Linked DNA regions of Homo sapiens. The protein of the gene in region 1 purifies or fractionates together with the protein of each later gene. This does not show direct contact. Each region holds a gene or a part of one and is shown on either strand. Other genes may lie near its edges.

Region 1 (5,443 bases):
CTGTAGATTCAAAATATGTGAAATGTAGGTATTAATATGTTAAAATTATATAACCTTAAAGGGGGCATAAGTGAGCATCTAATACAACCTCACAATTTTACAATAAGGAAACTGGAGTCTAGACAAACACAGTGGCAGAATTTGGACTACAGCCCAGGCCTCAAGTCCCAGAACAATACTGTTTCCAACACACCACCATTTCCTGGCTATGTGACTCCTTTCTGGACCATAATTATAAAGCTTGGTTATATAGTTACCAGTCTACAGAAATATTTTAGGTAATATTATCTTGGAGAAGCATTAAAAATTTTCTACAGCCAAACTTAATGAGCATTTGTTTGTGACACCTTCCTCACTTATGTAATTTGTACATATGTCTGTCCCCAGTCAAATTACAGTATCCAGCTAAGAACTCTATTACTATGAGTAATGTGGAAAATTTTGAGGGAGAGAAAGAAAAAACCCACTGAAGTATAAAATCTGATACTATAATAACAGCAACAATGATAACAAAAACATAAATAGTGGCTAAATTTTAATCAACACTTAAAGTTATCGATTGTGCTAACAGCTTTACGTCTTTTATCTTCCCCTCACAATATATCTTTGAAATGGATATTACTATTATTCTCATTTTATAGAAGAGAAAATTAAAGCAAGAAGTTCAAAAAGTAGCCCAGGATTACACTGCTAGTAAATAGTATAGGCAAGAATCAAATCCAGACCACAGATCTTGTGTTCTAACTACTTTATTACATAGCAAACACCATCCAACACAAACATAATGCAAATCACACACACAAGCCACATATGTAATTTAAAAATTTTTTAAATTACATTAAAAAAGTAAAAACAAGGGAAATTAATTTTAATAATATTTTATTTAACCTAATATAGCTAAAATACTATTTTAATATGCAATTATAAAACTTAAAATCTTTTACATTGTTTTATTTGTAGTAAGTCTTAGAAATCTGGTATATATTTTACATTCACAGCACATCTCAGTTCAAACTGGCTACATTTTAAGTGCTCAACAGTCACATGTAGTTAGGAGCTACTACATTGGATAGGGCAACTAGGGAATCTCTCTAAAATCAAACAGAGGGAACAGGATGGTAAAACCATATATGAAGAACATAAAGTCAGGTGTTTCTGCTTCTGAAAACAGCAGGCTAGGTGATTCAGACTAACCTTCCCACTAATGGCTACTTCAAAAGTTGAACAAAAATCAAATCACAAAACAAACCAATAGGAAAAAAAAAAAAAACTTGAAAAGTACCATAAAGCAAACAAGATAGTAAGTAACTATAGGACAAGAATTGGGCAAAGATGGAAATCTAGAGAGGTGAGTCCTGAACTCAGGACCACATTTGCTTTGGGAGTATTTGCATACCAGAATATAAACTCACAAAGCTTGGATTAAAATTTCAATGCCAAGACCTGCTAAGTATAAGGACTCTGGTACTTTTGGCTGGGATCGTCAGAGCTCCACCCTAGGAACACAGGTAATCCTAAAATAAAGCAGCCCTTGCATGAACTACAGACTGGCCTCCAGTCTCGAGTAGCTCACAGAAAACCTTAAGCTCTAAAATTGGATAAAGATAATCTTGGAAAGTTAGTGCCCCCAGCGGCTTAGAAGAGCAAATGAAAATATCTGGAGGAAGATAACATCATCCCTAGCTTCAAATAATTTCTATAAATAATGTTTCAAATACAATGTCCACCAATCAAAGATTACCAAGCACATGAGGACATATGCAGCATGAGGAAGAAACAGCAAAAACAACAGGCAACAGAAACATCCAAAAGGACATGTAATGAGGGAATGAGCAAATGTAGTCTACAAAACTATAGTTATTTTGTTCAAAGGCATAAAAATAAAGCTTGAAAATTTAGCAGACAATTGGAAACTATAAAAAGCAACATATAGGTTTTTTAATGAATATTCTATAATTTTAAAATAATGTCCACAAGAATTTAATAATTGAGTTTAGCTTCATATTAGGCCCAGTTCAAGAAAGATATAAATTGGAAAACAGATCTGAAGAAACTATGTAAAAAAGAAACAAGGAAAGTAAAAAATATAGAAGAAAAGTTAAGAAATACAGAAGATATAGTTAGAAAAGGGTACAATATACATTTACTTAGAATTCCAGAAGAAGACGGAAAATGAATTTGAATAGATAATGACTGAGAATTTTCAAAACATTGAAGAAAAACATCCATCCACAATTCAAGGTCAACAAATCCTGAGAAGAATAAATAAAAGGAAAAATACACCTAGCCAGAAGAGAGAAAAAGAAGGAGAAAAGATGTCTAAAAGCAGCTAGAGACAAGAGTTTCTTGCAAAGAAACAGTAAGATTATAATACGACTTCTCAACAGCAATAACGAAAGCCTAAAGACAATGGAACAAAATATTCAAAGTATAGAAAGCAAATTACTATCAACCTAAAGTTCTATATGCTGCAAAAATATCTTTCAAGACCACAGGTAAAATAAAAATATTTTTAGACAAACAAAAGCTGAGAGAATTTGCCTTCAGTCAATAACACACAGTAAGAGAAATATTAAATGGTGATCTTCAAAAATAACAATTAATCCCAGATAAAAAGTTGGAAATGCAAAAAGAAATGAACAGAAATGAAAATATGCTAAAAAGTGGGTAAATCTAGATGACCAGTAACTCTACTAAAACAATAATACTAATGTCTGTGGTGTTTAGAAATATTTATATAAAAGTAGCATTTAAGTTGCAGGGCATACATGGAACTAAAATAGTCTAAGGAACTGATATTATCTGTACTTCTAAGTTAAAGATGTACGTTGTAATTTCTAGTAAAAGTATATACATTTATTCCTTGGTATCCATGGAGGATTGGTTCCAGGACTCCCTGCAAATACCCAAAATCCATAGATGTTCAAAGCCTTACATAAAATGGTGTAGTATTTGTGTAAAACCTATGAATATCCTCCTGTATACTTTATCGCTAGATTACTTATAATACCTAATATAATATAAATACTATATAAATTGTTATACTGTACTTTTATAGAGAACAGTGACAAGCAAAAGAGTCAGTACAGATGCAACTATCCATTCTTTTTGTTTTTGTTTTTGTTTTTGTTTTTGAGATGGAGTCTTGCTCTATCGCCCAGGCTGGAGTGCAGTGGCACGATTTTGGCTCACTGCAACCTCCGCCTCCCAGGTTTAAGCGATTCGCCTGCCTCAGCCTCCCGAGTAGCTGGGATTACAGGCGCCAGCCACCACGCCCATCTAATTTTTTTGTATTTTAGTAGAGATGGGGTTTCACTATGTTAGCCAGGTTGGTCTCGAACTCCTGACCTCAGGTGATCCACCCACCTCAGCCTCCCAAAGTGCTGGGATTACAGGCGTAAGCCACCGCGCCCGGCCGCAACTGTCCATTTAAAAAAAAAAAATTTTTGTTCCACAGTTGATGAAATCCTTGGAGAAGGCTCAAATGTAGTTCCTAAACTAGAAAGGAAAAAATTAGATAAATTAAAAAAAACAAGATCAATACAAAAGAAAGTAAATATGGAGATTTAAAAAATATGTTTAAGAAATAGCACACAATAAGGTGAAAGATTTAAACCTAAATATATCGATAATTACATTAAATAAAAATGAAATAAATATTCCAGTTACAGGATAAAGATTTATAGACTGAATTTTAAAAAACTTAAGCGATTGTATCTAAAACATAAAGAAAAGAATGGTTCAATGTAAGAAGATGAAAAAGATAAACCACTTTAACCCTAACACCTCCTCTCCAAAGAAAACCTGCTGCGGCAATATTAGAAAAAACAGACTTTAAAGCCAAAACATTGCTAAAAATAAAGAGAATCACTTTATAATATCTGTACCAGGAATATATAATAATACCTAAGTTAAGTACACCTAATAACATACCCACAATACATATAATGCAAAACCGGACAAGAACTATAAAGAAAAATTGAAACAAATCCACAATCATAAGGGAAAGCTTTAACACCTTTAAGTAATTAACAGAACAAATGGACAAAAGGATGTTAAGTTAATATAGAGGATTTGAACAATAAGTTTAACACAAACTAGATATAAATTATATAGAACATTATACCAAACAAGGTGAGAATACACATGTCAAAAACACACAAATACACATGGAGAACAATTATAAAAATTGATTATACACTAAGTCTTAAAGGAAGTTTTGACAAATTTCAAAAATATTGACACTGATATCATACAGACCATATACTCTGATCATAATAAAATTAAACTTGAAATCATTAATAAAATATATCTATAAACATTTCATGACCAATAATGAAGAAAGACATATTTCTAAATAACCCACAAGTCAAAGAAATCACAATAGAAATAAAAAATGCTGGCTGGGCGCAGTGGCTCATGCCTGTAATCCTAACACTTTGGGAGGCTGAGGAGGGTGGATCATCTGAGGTCAGGAGTTTGAGACCAGCCTGACAAACATGGCGAAACCCCATCTCTACTAAAAATACAAAAAATTAGCCGGGTGTGGTGGTGGGCACCTGTAATCCCAGCTACTCGGGAGGCTGAGGCAGGAGAATCTTTTGAACCCAAGAGGCGGAGGTTGCAGTGAGCCAAGATTGCACCATTGCACTCCAGCCTGGGCAACAAGAGTGAAACTCCAACTTAAAAAAAAAAAAAAATGCTTTGACCTGAATGAAAAGAAAAATAATGCATATTTAAACCTACAGGCAGCCAAAGCAATACAAATTTATAGCTGTAACTGCATATATATATATTAGAAAAGAAAAAAGGTTGAAAATTAGTAGACTGAAAATCCATTGCAAGAAACTAGAAAATAGTAAAAACAATTGCAAAAAAAGTAGAAAGGAGAAAATAATAAAAATGTAAAAATAAATTTGATGAAACAGAAAAACAAACATAATACAATAGATTAACCAAGCCAAAACTAGATTTTTGGGAAGACTAATAAAATTGATAAACCTCATTGACAAATAATTTTAAAAAATAGAGAAGGCATAAATAACCAAAATCAGAAATGAAAAACGGCATTACTACTGATCTTGCAGAATTAAAAAATAAAATATTCTGAAAAAATGTATGCCAATAAATTAGAAAACTTAGATGAAATAAATTATTAGAAGACTATAACTTATCAAACTGACAAACAGAAACCAAAATAGTCATATAATTATTAAAGAAATTAAATGTATATTTTGAAGTCTCTCTTCCTCGCCACACAAAACCAAAACCAACTAAACAAACAAACAAAGAAAAAGCCCAGCCTGATAGTTTTACTGGCCAATTCTACCAAATATTTAAAGGAAATTACACAAATTCTTCAAAGGCACAGAAAAAGACCATCCTCTAACTCTTTATGATAGCACAACCTTGAAACGAAACTTAAGAAGATTAAGAATAAAGA
Region 2 (4,676 bases), on another chromosome or scaffold:
CTTGGCCTCCCGAAGTGCTGGGATTACAGGTGTGAGCCACCGTGCCCAGCCGAATTCACATCAGTTCTTAAAACAATATTTATATGACTGACTTATTTTGATAAGTCTGATTTCAAAGAATATCAGAATGATTATCTCATCTCAATGTAAAACTATGCATTTATGAACAATTAAGGTTATGAATACTGTGCTGTATTATGAAATGTCTATGAAAAAGCAGGAAACAATATGTATATTTCATAATTATAATAATGTTAGAAAATAAACAAACGAAAGACTCAAAACAAACACAGGAAAAAAAATAATACTTATATTAGAAAAATAGGATATTGGTTATTTTCCTTTTCTCTATTTGTTTTCCAAAGTGCCCATAATATGGTAGTATTACTTTTTAAACAGATTTATTGAGATATAATTCACACAAAATTCAAGCATTTTAAGTGTACAACTAAATTATTTTTGTAAATTTACTGAGCTGTGCAACAATATTACCACATTCAGTTTTAGAATATTTCCATCACCCCAAAAAGATCCCTCATGCCTACTTAAGATGGCTATGTTAATTTTATAATAAAACACATTGTTTCATTACTGACATAGACTATGTGGAAATTCATCTCCTCTTTCTGCTCCCAGTTATACCATAGAAATAATCCCTTCTCCCAATGAAATCTTCACTCTCTCTGTCCTGTCAATGCCAAACTCTCTGACAGAGTGGCTTATATTTTATTGCTTTCCTAATTCTCTGCCTTCTGAACCTCCTGTACATCTTGAAATTTCTTTTGTAAAAGTCTCTGATAACTTGTTAAGTACCAAATAAAAGTCTGCATCTGTTTTTCTCTCCAGGATTTGGCTGTGTTGGTCACAATTTCCACTCCCATTCTGAAATTGTCTCTTTCCTAATTATTGACATGCTGCTCAGTTTGGAGTCTCTTAAAATCCTGACCACTTCTCTTCTTAACTGGCATCTTTCTTCTGTCTTCTAGACAGAATAATAAACTATATTCTATTCTCATTTTTATTTCCTTTCTATACTTGCTTTCTTGGCAACCTCACCCACTCCTAGATATTCACCAGTTACCACATGCAGAAGATGCCCAGGTCTTTTATCTAGCCTCTCTTTAAGTTTCAGTCATTTCTATCTACTTGATAAAATGGTACATTTGAATGTGCCATTGATACCTCAAACTTGCAGTCCACTTACATGATCTCCCTCTCTGAAGTTGGTTCTTTGTTCTAGTTTCTCAATTTCTGTGTATGCACTCTGTATTCTTCCATTATTCTAGGTGTGATATCTGAATCTTTTGGCACTCCCCTGCTGTCCCCTGCTTTTTTTCCCCTCTAATCATAAGCTAACTCTTTTTCATTTAAATCTCCAAAATGAACTTAAAATGATAATATGCTATTCAGTATATTAATAGTTTAAACTACTTAAAAACTAGCAGATACATATTAGTAGAATATATGAACATACTTTTTCATAGATAACCAAGCAGATTATTATGTAAAGGTTTTTAGAGAATTACTTCTTTTTTTAAGAGACTGCCTTCAGTCAACGAGATAAATAATGATATGTGACTCTTAAATGGTGTTGTTTAGATAACTTGCTAATAGCTTAAGCTAGTGATTTTCAATCTGGAGCAATTTGGCCCCCAAGGGGATACTTGACAATGTCTGGAAACAGCTTTGGTTGATACAACTGAGCAGATGCTACTGACATCTAGTGGGCAGAGGCCAGGAATGCTGCTGAAGATTGTACAATGCCTGGGACAGCCGCATGATGGTTATTGACCCAAAATGTCCACAACGCTGAAGTAGAGAAACCCCAATTTAAACATATAACTACTGTCATGGCTAAACTGTGTTCCTCCCACCCCAAATTCAGTGTTGAAGCCCTAACCACTAGTACCTCAGAATGTGAGTGTATTTAGAAATAGGCCTTTAAGGAGATAATTAAGTTAAAATGAGACGGTTAGAATGGTCTATAATCCAATTTGATAGGTGTCCTTAAGAGAAGAGGAAATTTGGACACACAAGCGTGTACACACACAGAGAAAAGGCCATATGGGGACACAGAAAGAGGGCAGCCATCTGCCAGCCAAGGAGAGAGGCCTCAGAGGAAACCAAACCTGCAAACATCTTTATCTTAGACTTCTAGCTCCCAGAATTATGGGAAAATAGTTTTCTGTTGTTTAAGCCACACAGTCTGTGGCTTGAATATTTAAAAACAGTTACTACATAACCGTGGTATGTAGTTATCCCAGCCCAAGAAAACTAATACAATTACACTGCAAAAAAAGTCCACTTATCTTCCAGTTTAGTTACAGAAAATTTCTCTGCCTTTGGGTTCTTCTTGGCTAACTCCTTCAGTAGCTCATCTGCCACCCAAACAGCTTTCAAGTTCTTTGACCTCTTTATTTTGCCTTCCGCCCAGTATTATCAGTTGTGATCTGTCATTTATGATGCCACACATCATAGTGACATGGATATGGAAGGTGGTTCAAGGTCTAAATGTTACTCTAACATATCTGTAATATTTTGGTTAATTATCACTAATGTGATATAGAAAAGAACAACTTTAAAAAGGTGAAATGGGAGAAATCTGGCTGACAGGAAGCCCTAATGAATTATTTAAATTTTAGGAGAAAAAAAGAACGATAGAGAGGGAAATTAATTATTCGGCCCAATACTTCCATTCTTCTCTGAGAAGCAAATGTAGCTCCTAAGCTCTACAGTGTCAGTGTGCCTCATTTCTCTGACTTCTGACATAGTAAGTTGATACAGATATACATTTCAAGGAAGCAGATTTTTAATATTTAAAAATGCATATTTAGCAAGAAAAGGAAGGAAAAATAATGAAGCTTGAACAAGAGTGGTTTTACCTTTTCTGCAATTTTCAGAGAAACATCTCTAATGGTATTCAAAGGAGGATAAAGCCGACCCTCTTCCAAGTGTTTATCTGACACTTGCTGAGCTATAACCTTATGAAAAAAAGAAAGAAAAAAAGTGTTTATACTTCACACGATACAATGTGGTGGGTACGCCAATAACTAAGTGAACGGTTACATATAATGGTCTATACAAAAACCAGTGACATTAATATGATTACCTAATTTCATCCCCACTTCTATCAACAAAGAAATAAGCCCAGAGTGGTGTGGTGGTGGTTGAGATCACATAATTGGTGAAAAAGATGGGAATAGAATCTAGGTTTCCTTTTAGTCCACTTCCTTTTCTATTGTACCATGAAATGCTAGATACTTTCCAATTGATACATTAGGGGAACAAGGGAAAAGAAAAGAAAGAAAGAGGAAGATGATAGAGTAATGAAAATGGATCCTGAAAGCAGAGGAGGACAGCTATCCAAGGCTAAGCATGCCATTACTCCCAGCTCTGAGTCATATTCTTGTGCAGGAGGTAGAGCAAAAGGCTGAGAAAGCTAGTTCAGAGTCTCACTACAAATAGGATTTTAATTTTACACAGACTCTGGATTATCTAAATCACCTAATTAGCCTCAACATTTACTGTCCCCAAACCATTCCCTAGTTCCAAATCAAACAGTGTTAAATTTTGTATTGAACCCTAAGGCAGAGAGGGAGACTCAGTAACCCTGATGTTCTCTCCAGCTCTAAGACTTTGATTAAATTTCTAGATGGGGGCAAATCTAAATCAGCTTATACCTAGGCCTTTGTTCCATGAAAATGTGGATGCAGAGAGGGAGTAGGAAACCTTCCTCTTTTGTAACATTTTAAATAATCAAATACTTATTTTTCAGTATATCTTAATATCTTTTAGATTTTTAAATCATGAAATTATTTCCAAAATATTATTCTTTGCCATCAGCAAACATATATGCACTGAACAAGCATAACACTACGGAGAAGCTTAAGAAAAGTGTTATTGTCCTTGAGAGATGTATAATTTAGTAAGGTAACAGAGTACGGGAAGAAAAAGAGAACGCTGAAAGAGAAGACGGCTTAGGCTAATGGTGAAATGTGGGTGCTAAGAAATCCAGAGGAAGAGCAGTTCTGGAAGGCCTTATAGTGCACAGTGGCTTGAAAGGCAAACCTACAGGAAAGCCTGGAGTTAGACAAACAGAAAGTAGGTAGGCATTTCAGACAAAAAACAGAGTCAGACCAAAGGCAGAGTTGTGTGTGAGCTGGACTCAGCAGGCCCAAGTGTCCTGACCTGGGGGAGCAGAGGGTCTGGGTACAGAAATAAGGACTGGAGCATTATCAATGTCAAAAAAGGAGTTTGGAGTTAAATCCCGTCGGTGACTAAGGACTTCTGACCAGGGACATTTAGGCAGAGGTAAGATGGAAAGGAGAAGGAGGTAAAGTTACTAGTATAACTATTTGTTTGATTAGTATTGCTCTACATATTATACAAAATATTATAACATATAATTGTAGGGTGTTGACCATAATTTTATAATAAACTCATCATTTAACTCATTAATTTCTTGCCTTTGTAACAGGATGTTTGCCCTAGAATTGGTCATCAGGGTCCCAAACTTCAGGACAAAGATACGTTAACTATTCCACACTATCAGGAAGTCACCAAACAAGTGGGGCTTGCCATCTACCTCAGAAAGTAGAATCAGCCCTGCCAACCCCACAAACCACAGCCACCCCCTTCCAGAAGGCTGAGCTAGTGAGAGGCAGGGAAATTTGCTG
Region 3 (4,676 bases), on another chromosome or scaffold:
TTATCCCCAGTATCATCAAATTATTTTAAAGCACGTCTCAGACATCATATTCCATTCATAAATACTTGAGTATGTATCTCTAAAAGATAGGAACCCTTTTTTTCTTCTAACAAAACCACAGTTCCATTACCATACCTTTAAAATGAATGGTAATTCCCTAGTAAGCCATGAAATCATTAAAAAGAAATAGGATGGCAGTCAGCCTTTTATGCTATGAATGTAATTTATCCCTAAACAACAACAAAAACAAAAAAAGTCAACACATTCACTTTCTAAACCAATATCTCTTTTAATAAGACAACTAATAATGAATCAAATCTAATTTTAAATTAATTTCCCTATTCGATCATTATAATTTCAATGAACTGTAGCATGACTTCAGCATTTTTGCTTATGATAGCAGCTGATAGTTATTGAGGTATTACTATGTATTCTTATTATCTCTATTTTATAGATGAGGAAACTGAAGCTGAAAGAACTTAAGTAATTTGTCCAAGGTCACTCAAACAGTGAAAGGCAAGGCTGGGGCTCAGACCTTTGTCTATTAATTTCAAAGCCCTTGCTTTTCATCACTACAAAATACCACCTTTTTTACCATCATTGTTAAGGACTAAGAATGAGATCACAGGCACCAAACCTTATCTTTGTTTTTCAGGTACTATTTTCAAGGCTTCCAAGTCCTACATTCAAATGACTTTTTCAGTTAATTGTGTCTCATATGTGACTACAGTCATCCAGGCATATGTACCATTTGACTGACATGAGACTACTTATGCCACCTTAGCTGGGGCAGAGTTTATATAAAGTTAGGATGGGAGGTAACAACAGCACAGTATGTTTACATGTAGGAACTTCAAAGATAAGGCAATCCACATCTTGAGTCCTTCTTTCTCTTCCCTCTGGATTTTGCCTCTTCTAGGCTCTGATGCACTTTGTCCATTTCTCTTATTCTATTTGGCCAGAAAGGACTGGGCTCTGGGAAAGAAGCTCCAGCTCTCTCTGACTCTCACTGAGTCCACCTAGAAATTCTCTCACATTCACACTTTCCACGAAAGAGCACAACCAAGAGAAACATGCCATTATTATATGGAAACAAAGTACCTATTAATAAAATAGTTGGCCGGGTGCAGTGACTCACGCCTGTAATCCCAGCACTTTGGGAGGCTGAGGCGGGCAGATCAGGAGGTCAGGAGATCAAGACCATCCTGGCTAACACGGTGAAACCCCGTCTCTACTAAAAATGCAAAAAAAAAATAAAAATAAAAAAGTTTGCCAGGCATGGTAGTGGGCGCCTGTAGTCCCAGCTACTCGGGAGGCTGAGGCAGGAGAATGGCTTGAACCCCGGATGCGGTGCTTGCAGTGATCCGAGGTCGTGCCACTGCACTCCAGCCTGGGTGACAGAAGTCAAAAAAAATTAAAAAAAAATAAAAAAAAAATAGTTAAGAGCTGAATGGCAGTTATATGTCTTATCCAGGAGAGAAGTCCACAATTTTAGAAGCTAAAAGGCACTTCTACTGAAAAGTAAGAGGAAATTCCAGCTACATGAGCTGAACTTACCCTCATGTTCCTTATAGTAAGTTATTCCATGTGAATGAAAGGTGTAGGGCCTAGAGGCAAGGTTTTTTAAGTGTACATAAACTTTATCTCCAGTTTCAGCTTTGATAATAGGGCCTAAAAACCCAAGCCAGACCGGTTTTTCTATAGTTGTCCTAAAGGTTTCATCTGTGTACTGAAGATAAAGGGCCTTCTTATATAGTCTCCCAATTCTATCTGGGCCATTTTGAAGATAGATATTGGAATGTTCCCTGCAAAGAAAAACAAGACAACTCTATCAGAAGCCATCATTTCTAGGGATGACATTATCATTATAATTTAATAACATTATAATTAGAGAAATTAATGAGCACATCACATTGAATGTTTGCCTGTTGTAGGGATGCCTCCAAAATTGAAGTGGAGGGCTGGTAGTTAGCCCTGTTATTTTAATGATGTGAGGCTTTCCATATCAGGTATATGTCAGAGAACCATCTGCGAAGGCATCATAGAAATGTAGTGCATCTTACTGAAGTATTTTCTCCATGATTTTTATATTAAGACACAGGCATATTATGTAATGGAATAGAATACAAAATTAAGTTGAAATATTAAAATAAAGCAGTTAATTAAGACATTTTTTCACTTCTACCTCTCTTAGCTACTGGAAAAATTTGAGTTTATAATTAATCAATCTGGATATTTGAGACTTCAAAGTATGTGTGTGTATATTTATATATTTTTTTCCTTAAAGTAAGATTAATAAAGCTAAATTAATTCTTTTATATTTCTTTTAACAGCACTAAATCAAAGCTAGAGTTGTTGATGCATGCAATGTGTGTGGTTTTTAAATTACTTTTGAATTTAAATAATCCCTGTGTTTTTTAATCCCTCACTAGTACAGATACTTAACATTGAATGTTTGTATTCTAGTGAATGTCCATTAATAGTTGCTTAAAACTTTCTTTAAAATATCAGTGAGGTAAATAGCAATCTGGAAAAGAAAAGATGGAAAGAAAGTAAATTTGGTTTGAATTAATTTCTTGTGTTATCAACCTTAACTGAAGGCTTATATAGCCCAGTGGGATCTATTCATGGGCAACATCATGTTGCCATTTGGCAGGACCCACTTAGATTCTGGCCTTTGGCAAGCCCCTCCACAACCAAGGCTCTTCCATTTGAATAAAAACTGCTCATCATCATGGGTGTGTGTGTGTGTGTGTGTGTGTGTGTGTGTGTGTGTGTGTTGCCTTCTTTCATCTTATTGATCTTTGATACTTTACCAATTTCTACTCAACATTTGTGGGGCCGAGTAATCTGACTGAGGAATAAGTTTTGTCTTGTTTCCTCAGTTGTAAGCTCACTGGTAAAAGTGAGATATATTTTTCTTTCCCTTCTTTAAGACAAGAGCAGAGCTTGTGTGAGAGCTCTGGACTTTCACTGCTACAGAATTTAAAGATGTGGTTTTTCAAAAGTCTAAGGCCTGATGTTTCTTAAGTCTGAATATGCACAGGAATCTACTGATGAACTTAGTGAAATGCAAACTCCTGGGACACAACTCCATTGATTCTGATTCTGTGGGTCTGGGGCAGGGCCCAGGTATCTGCATTATTAACCAACACACTGGTGTGTTTTGATGAGATAGTCTGCTCTGGGGCCCTGGGTAACCTGTGTTGAAGAGGCTCTAAGGTTGAAGATTAAGAGAGCTGCCCAATCCCAGAAGCAGTGGGATTCCTGATACCATGAGACAGAAAGGTAGAAAACTCGGTTTCCAGGTCATACCTGGAAGTGGCAGGACCTCTGCGGTGGAGGCTATATAGATTAAGCCTGAGTGCTGGGGCCAGGTACCATGGCCACTTGGCAATGGTCCTGGTGGCTGAGTTTGGGCAGAGTGAGCAGGTGTTGAAAATAAGAGTCACCATTCTCTGGATTGATCAAGGAATTTCTATGATGAGCGTTTCCTCCTAGTCACTACCATATACCAATACACTGGGAATACCAATTTTCCTGAATTGTATAAACCCGAATTCCCAAAGAAGATAAAATTATTCACTAAAAAAATGACTGAGATGATGTTTCCCTGTCCATCCCCTGTCCTGGTGGGAGGGCTAAGCTAGAAGTTAGAAAAATAAAGTGTCATTATTTGCAGCCTGTGTGGAGCAGCAAAACTGTGAGTATACCCTCATTTTTTCTATTTGTTTTCACTTTCTAATTGTTTGTTGCCATTTCCCAATTTGTTAAAGCAAAATAGGAAAAGATTGGGAGAGACTTCATGGACACAGGTAGGCATGGGAAAAGGGCAAGACACTGGGGTGAACTCTGTCCCTAAACCCATAGCAAGGAATGCACAGAAAGAGTCTTAATAAATATATGTCTTAACAACAGCAAAATTGTTGCATCAAAGACTACTAAGTTTAAAAGCAGAGAGTCATTCAGTCCATATGACTGAGAGGAGGTCAATAAGAGTGCAATTTCAGTTAGGTACACAACTGCAGCTGCAAAGTCTACAGTACAAAGGTACAATTCCACTCTGGTCCCACCGGAACCCTGGACCAATCAATCTCACAGAGACTTGTCTAAGCCCCAGGGTAAATTTTCTTAAGAGTCTGAACACACTTTTATTTCTGAGAGATTGATTTGATAATATTTGGAGACTTTACTCCATGCTTTACCATGTCCTATTGGTACACATCTTACATAGGCCAAAGTTAAAAGTTAGCCCTCAAATTCTTAAGGCTTCATTTAAATAAAATGTTTCTTTATATTTTCTGAATGTAAATACACTTTGGCATACATCATGTCCTATTTTGATAAACTATAGCAGGCTTTGTCAAAATGATTTTATTGCATTGAAATGCTCCTGTATTAATCATTTCCTAAAATAGGAAGAGCATTGCCATAAACAAATACCTAAGACCAAGACCAAGACCTATATTGCCTAGGCTTTGTAACTAATTTTTCTAGGCAAAGTTTTTTGGGGGGGTTAAAATTGCTTTTAAAATTATTGATCTGAAGGTATAACATATCTAGGCGTTTTAACATCTGAAATTCCTTTTATACACATTGCAATATGCAAACTGCTTTTTGCATCTTGCCTTTTATTGTGAAAAAAACTGTCTTAACCAAACTGGAAAATATTTTAC
Region 4 (3,536 bases), on another chromosome or scaffold:
TTTTTTTAATTGAGATGGGGTCCCCCTAAGTTGCTAAGGCTGGTCTCAAATTCCTGGTCTCACATGATCCTCTGGCCTTGGCCTCCCAAAGTACAGGGATTACAGGCATGAGCCACCACACCTGGCCCAGGGTGGTTTTGAAAATACAAACCTCTGGGCCCTACTCCAGACCTGGTGAAACAGAAATCTCCTGGGGACTCGGGGAAGGGGAGAGCTATCTGCCTGTTAATCACACTGAAGTTTAAAGCCACCAGAGACCTTTGTCTTTTATACTCCAAGTGACACAGCTCAATAAATACCTGTTGAATGAATGAAGGCCTTAAGGAATCGTGGCACTCAAAGCTCCAATTATGGATATATTTTTTAGGCCATCTAATCCAAAATGCTGTCATAACGTAAGTAAAATGTGACATCCCCTAAGGGGCATTCCCAGCCAGGCTAGCGAGCAAGGGAAGCTCTCCTATCTTTTGTCCAACAGCCTCAGCAAGTTGTCCCTACCTTAACAGGCCTCATCTGCCAGTACTTAACTGCAAAAGCTGTGACAGAGGAACCAGCAAACCAGCCTCCCAATGCTGCACCCTAAAAAAAAATGGGATCAATAAAATTAAGGTATAAATAGGGCCCTAGATCTAGCATGTGAGTAAATCTGTCACCCAGCAATGATTGAAGCTGGGCAAACTTCTATAAGCCATACAGTTTTATCTGTAGGCTGAATAGCCAAGACATTAAATTTCTTCCCTAATCATTCAAACCACAGGAAAGAGAAGGCAAGAGAAATGCAATCTTGTTTTTGTATCTACATTGTGCTAAGATTATATTTGCTGATTAAAAACCCACTGCATCTTTCAACATCTGAATGGATTAACTGTAGTATATCTATGCAATGGAATGCAATAAAAACTATTGATATACACATGAATGACTCTCAAATGCATTATGCAAATTGAGAAGCCAGCTCTAAAAGATTACATGTTATACGATTGTTTTTATGACATTCAGAAAAATGCAAAACTATGGGGAGGGAGAATGGATCTGTGGACGCCTAATTAGGGTTAGGAACGGGGGACGAATTTATCTGCAAAGGAGTAGCACAAAGGAATTTTTTGAGATGATGAAATGATCCCGCATTCTGATTAAGATGGTAGTTACATGACTATATGTATATGTTAAAACTCAGAACTTTATACCAAAAGAGTGAATTTGCTGTATGCAAATTATATTTTAAAAGAACCCACTGCATTTACCATTCACAATGTAAGTTATTAGGTCTCTGAGGGCCCCAAGAGACTTTTCTTCTGTTTATCAGTGTGGGGAATGCAGGAAAAAGTTATCTTGAGGCATAAGTGTGAAAGTGAGGAATCACTGCTATGCCACGTGGTCTATGCTAAGTACTCTATACCTGGCGCCAAATGTAGCATGTTATAAACTGGAAACTGTTTTGTAGAAAATTCCTTTATTATAGTGCAAATTACTTTCAGCAGTGACATAATGTAACAACACATTTAGCAACATTTTACACCACACAGTAAATAAGAAAGTGTTTCTTTGAAAATATGTCATCATAGGAACATTATTTCTACATTAATGCCAGAAAATGCCAAGGCCGTTTATCTCAAGGCAAACAGGGCTCCCTCCTTCCTTTTGGGTATTTTCTTTTTAACACAAATGAAATGACTTGCCATTTTAACAAATCCTCAATTCTAAAAGTGATCTCTCAGGGGGCTTTGAACTAAGGTCGGCAAGATTTGAAATGGGGCTTCAAAATTTTAAATAATAATTTTAAAATACTTCTGGAATAGCCCAAAAAGTAGAAGTCACTTCTATTAAGTTTTAAGTAGATATACACACTCACTCCAATTTTACTGTAGAAATGGACAGATTGTCTAAAGCCTGCTTTCTATTCCCCCAGAGCCTGATTGTTATTTATACTCCTTGGTTTTGGTTATTGCAGAACTAGGGCTCTGGTCAGAAATAACACCTTACATACCCGAATACTTTCCTGTGGAAGCTTTACATTGCATTTTCCATCCTGAAATTCTCACCTTAGACCTTACAGGCCCAGGAGAGGGTGTGAATATTGTTTTCAGTTTACAGCTAAAGCCCCTTACTAATTTGGGCTATACCTGAATCAAATCATCACATCATTTAGATTAATCCCAATAGGCTTATCCAAGCGGTTCCCACTAACCTCACAGAGAAACAAACAGTTAACATTGTATTTTCACACTAAGCTGCCTAAGGGCTTGGCTGCTAATGAGTTAGCTGATAGGTAGACAGAATAAGCGTGTCAATTCCAATCAGTACACGCCCTGCTCCTCTAGTTTCTGCTGAATTATGCAGTGGGTGGGAATGGTTGGCCACTCAAAACAGTCTTCCTATGGGGCTCTTCCACCATAAGTTGGATCAAAACTCCACAAATGTATTTCAAGGTGCCCTTTAAGTCTCTCAAATTTAGGGACTTTTAAGTGACAAGCCATGAGAAGTTAATCACAGGCTTGAAAATACCTGGAACCACAGAACAGCCCCCACGGAACAGGCTGAATATGGTTAAATAAGTTGGCTGGTACATAAAGCTTTTCAATGTACAGCCAGTCTTGTTGGATACAGTGTCTTCTTATATAATACAATGGAACTGTGCTAAACAGTTTCAAAGTTGAGAAGAATCCAAATGTATCACCTATAAAAAATTCATAATTTTAGTTTATTTTAGACTTTGGTACTGAAACACTGTCTACATTCTTGACACTTGAAAATGACATGGTCACTTCAGTGCCTCTGCATGTTGTGTAAAAAAAAAAAAAAAACTCAAAAAAGGAAAGCAGGACAAGGATGTGTCATTACAAGACACAGTATGCTGTACAAACAAAACCTAAATTATATATAAATACACCCCCACCCCAGAACCCTGTCTTCCCTCACTACCTGATCAAAGCAATGCCAAGGGTCCCTCCCTCCAGGGCCAATGTAGCTTTTAAAGTCCAGAACCCAGGACTTTAAGCATCCCTTGCCTTGCGGTGACGTTTACAGTACTGCAACCTCCTGTTGGAGTCACCTGTTTGATCAGTTCCGTAAGTGCAGGGTAACACCTACAGCTTAATTGGAAGCATTCACTCTACTGGCTGGATTCAAAGACCTGGAGTCCTGGGAGTTAACCTTTCAGATAAACTAACTGGATCATTTCCTAATCTGGATCCTATCTAATCCTACTATCTCCTCAGAGCCAACACAGTAGGAAGCATCTTCTACTCTGAAGCTTCCAAAGGCATTACTTAGGGATATTGGTGAGGGTCACATAAGAAAAGTTATACAATGAGCTAACAGCTTAAGTTGATATAAATTACTTCCAAGTAAGTTATTCAGGGCCGTTTGCTTCTGCTTTACACTGCATTCCACAGTCATTTTCATATTATTCTTTTAAAAGTTTATACTATAGTCACTTTAAAAATTGTCTAAGCAATCACCTCTTTGTGTTTTTGATTAATAACAACTTAATGAGCTATTATATAAATCAAGAGAGAAATAATTAGTCTTAAGGA

The links.
Region 2: the proteins of STX17 (region 1) and ME1 purify together in Homo sapiens (affinity purification with mass spectrometry; one large-scale study listed by BioGRID and IntAct). This does not show direct contact.
Region 3: the proteins of STX17 (region 1) and CP purify together in Homo sapiens (affinity purification with mass spectrometry; one large-scale study listed by BioGRID and IntAct). This does not show direct contact.
Region 4: the proteins of STX17 (region 1) and LGALSL purify together in Homo sapiens (affinity purification with mass spectrometry; one large-scale study listed by BioGRID and IntAct). This does not show direct contact.

The regions. Positions count from the first base shown.
Region 1 is NC_000009.12:99,943,774-99,949,216, reverse strand, and holds part of STX17 (syntaxin-17), read right to left. Parts: intron 1-5,443. UniProt on the Homo sapiens protein: SNAREs, soluble N-ethylmaleimide-sensitive factor-attachment protein receptors, are essential proteins for fusion of cellular membranes.
Region 2 is NC_000006.12:83,213,616-83,218,291, forward strand, and holds part of ME1 (NADP-dependent malic enzyme), read right to left. Parts: intron 2,982-4,676; coding exon 2,883-2,981; intron 1-2,882. UniProt on the Homo sapiens protein: Catalyzes the oxidative decarboxylation of (S)-malate in the presence of NADP(+) and divalent metal ions, and decarboxylation of oxaloacetate.
Region 3 is NC_000003.12:149,210,894-149,215,569, forward strand, and holds part of CP (ceruloplasmin precursor), read right to left. Parts: intron 1,806-4,676; coding exon 1,558-1,805; intron 1-1,557. UniProt on the Homo sapiens protein: Multifunctional blue, copper-binding (6-7 atoms per molecule) glycoprotein. It has ferroxidase activity oxidizing Fe(2+) to Fe(3+) without releasing radical oxygen species. It is involved in iron transport across the cell membrane.
Region 4 is NC_000002.12:64,459,282-64,462,817, reverse strand, and holds the end of LGALSL (galectin-related protein), read right to left. Parts: 3' UTR 1,437-3,536; downstream 1-1,436. UniProt on the Homo sapiens protein: Does not bind lactose, and may not bind carbohydrates.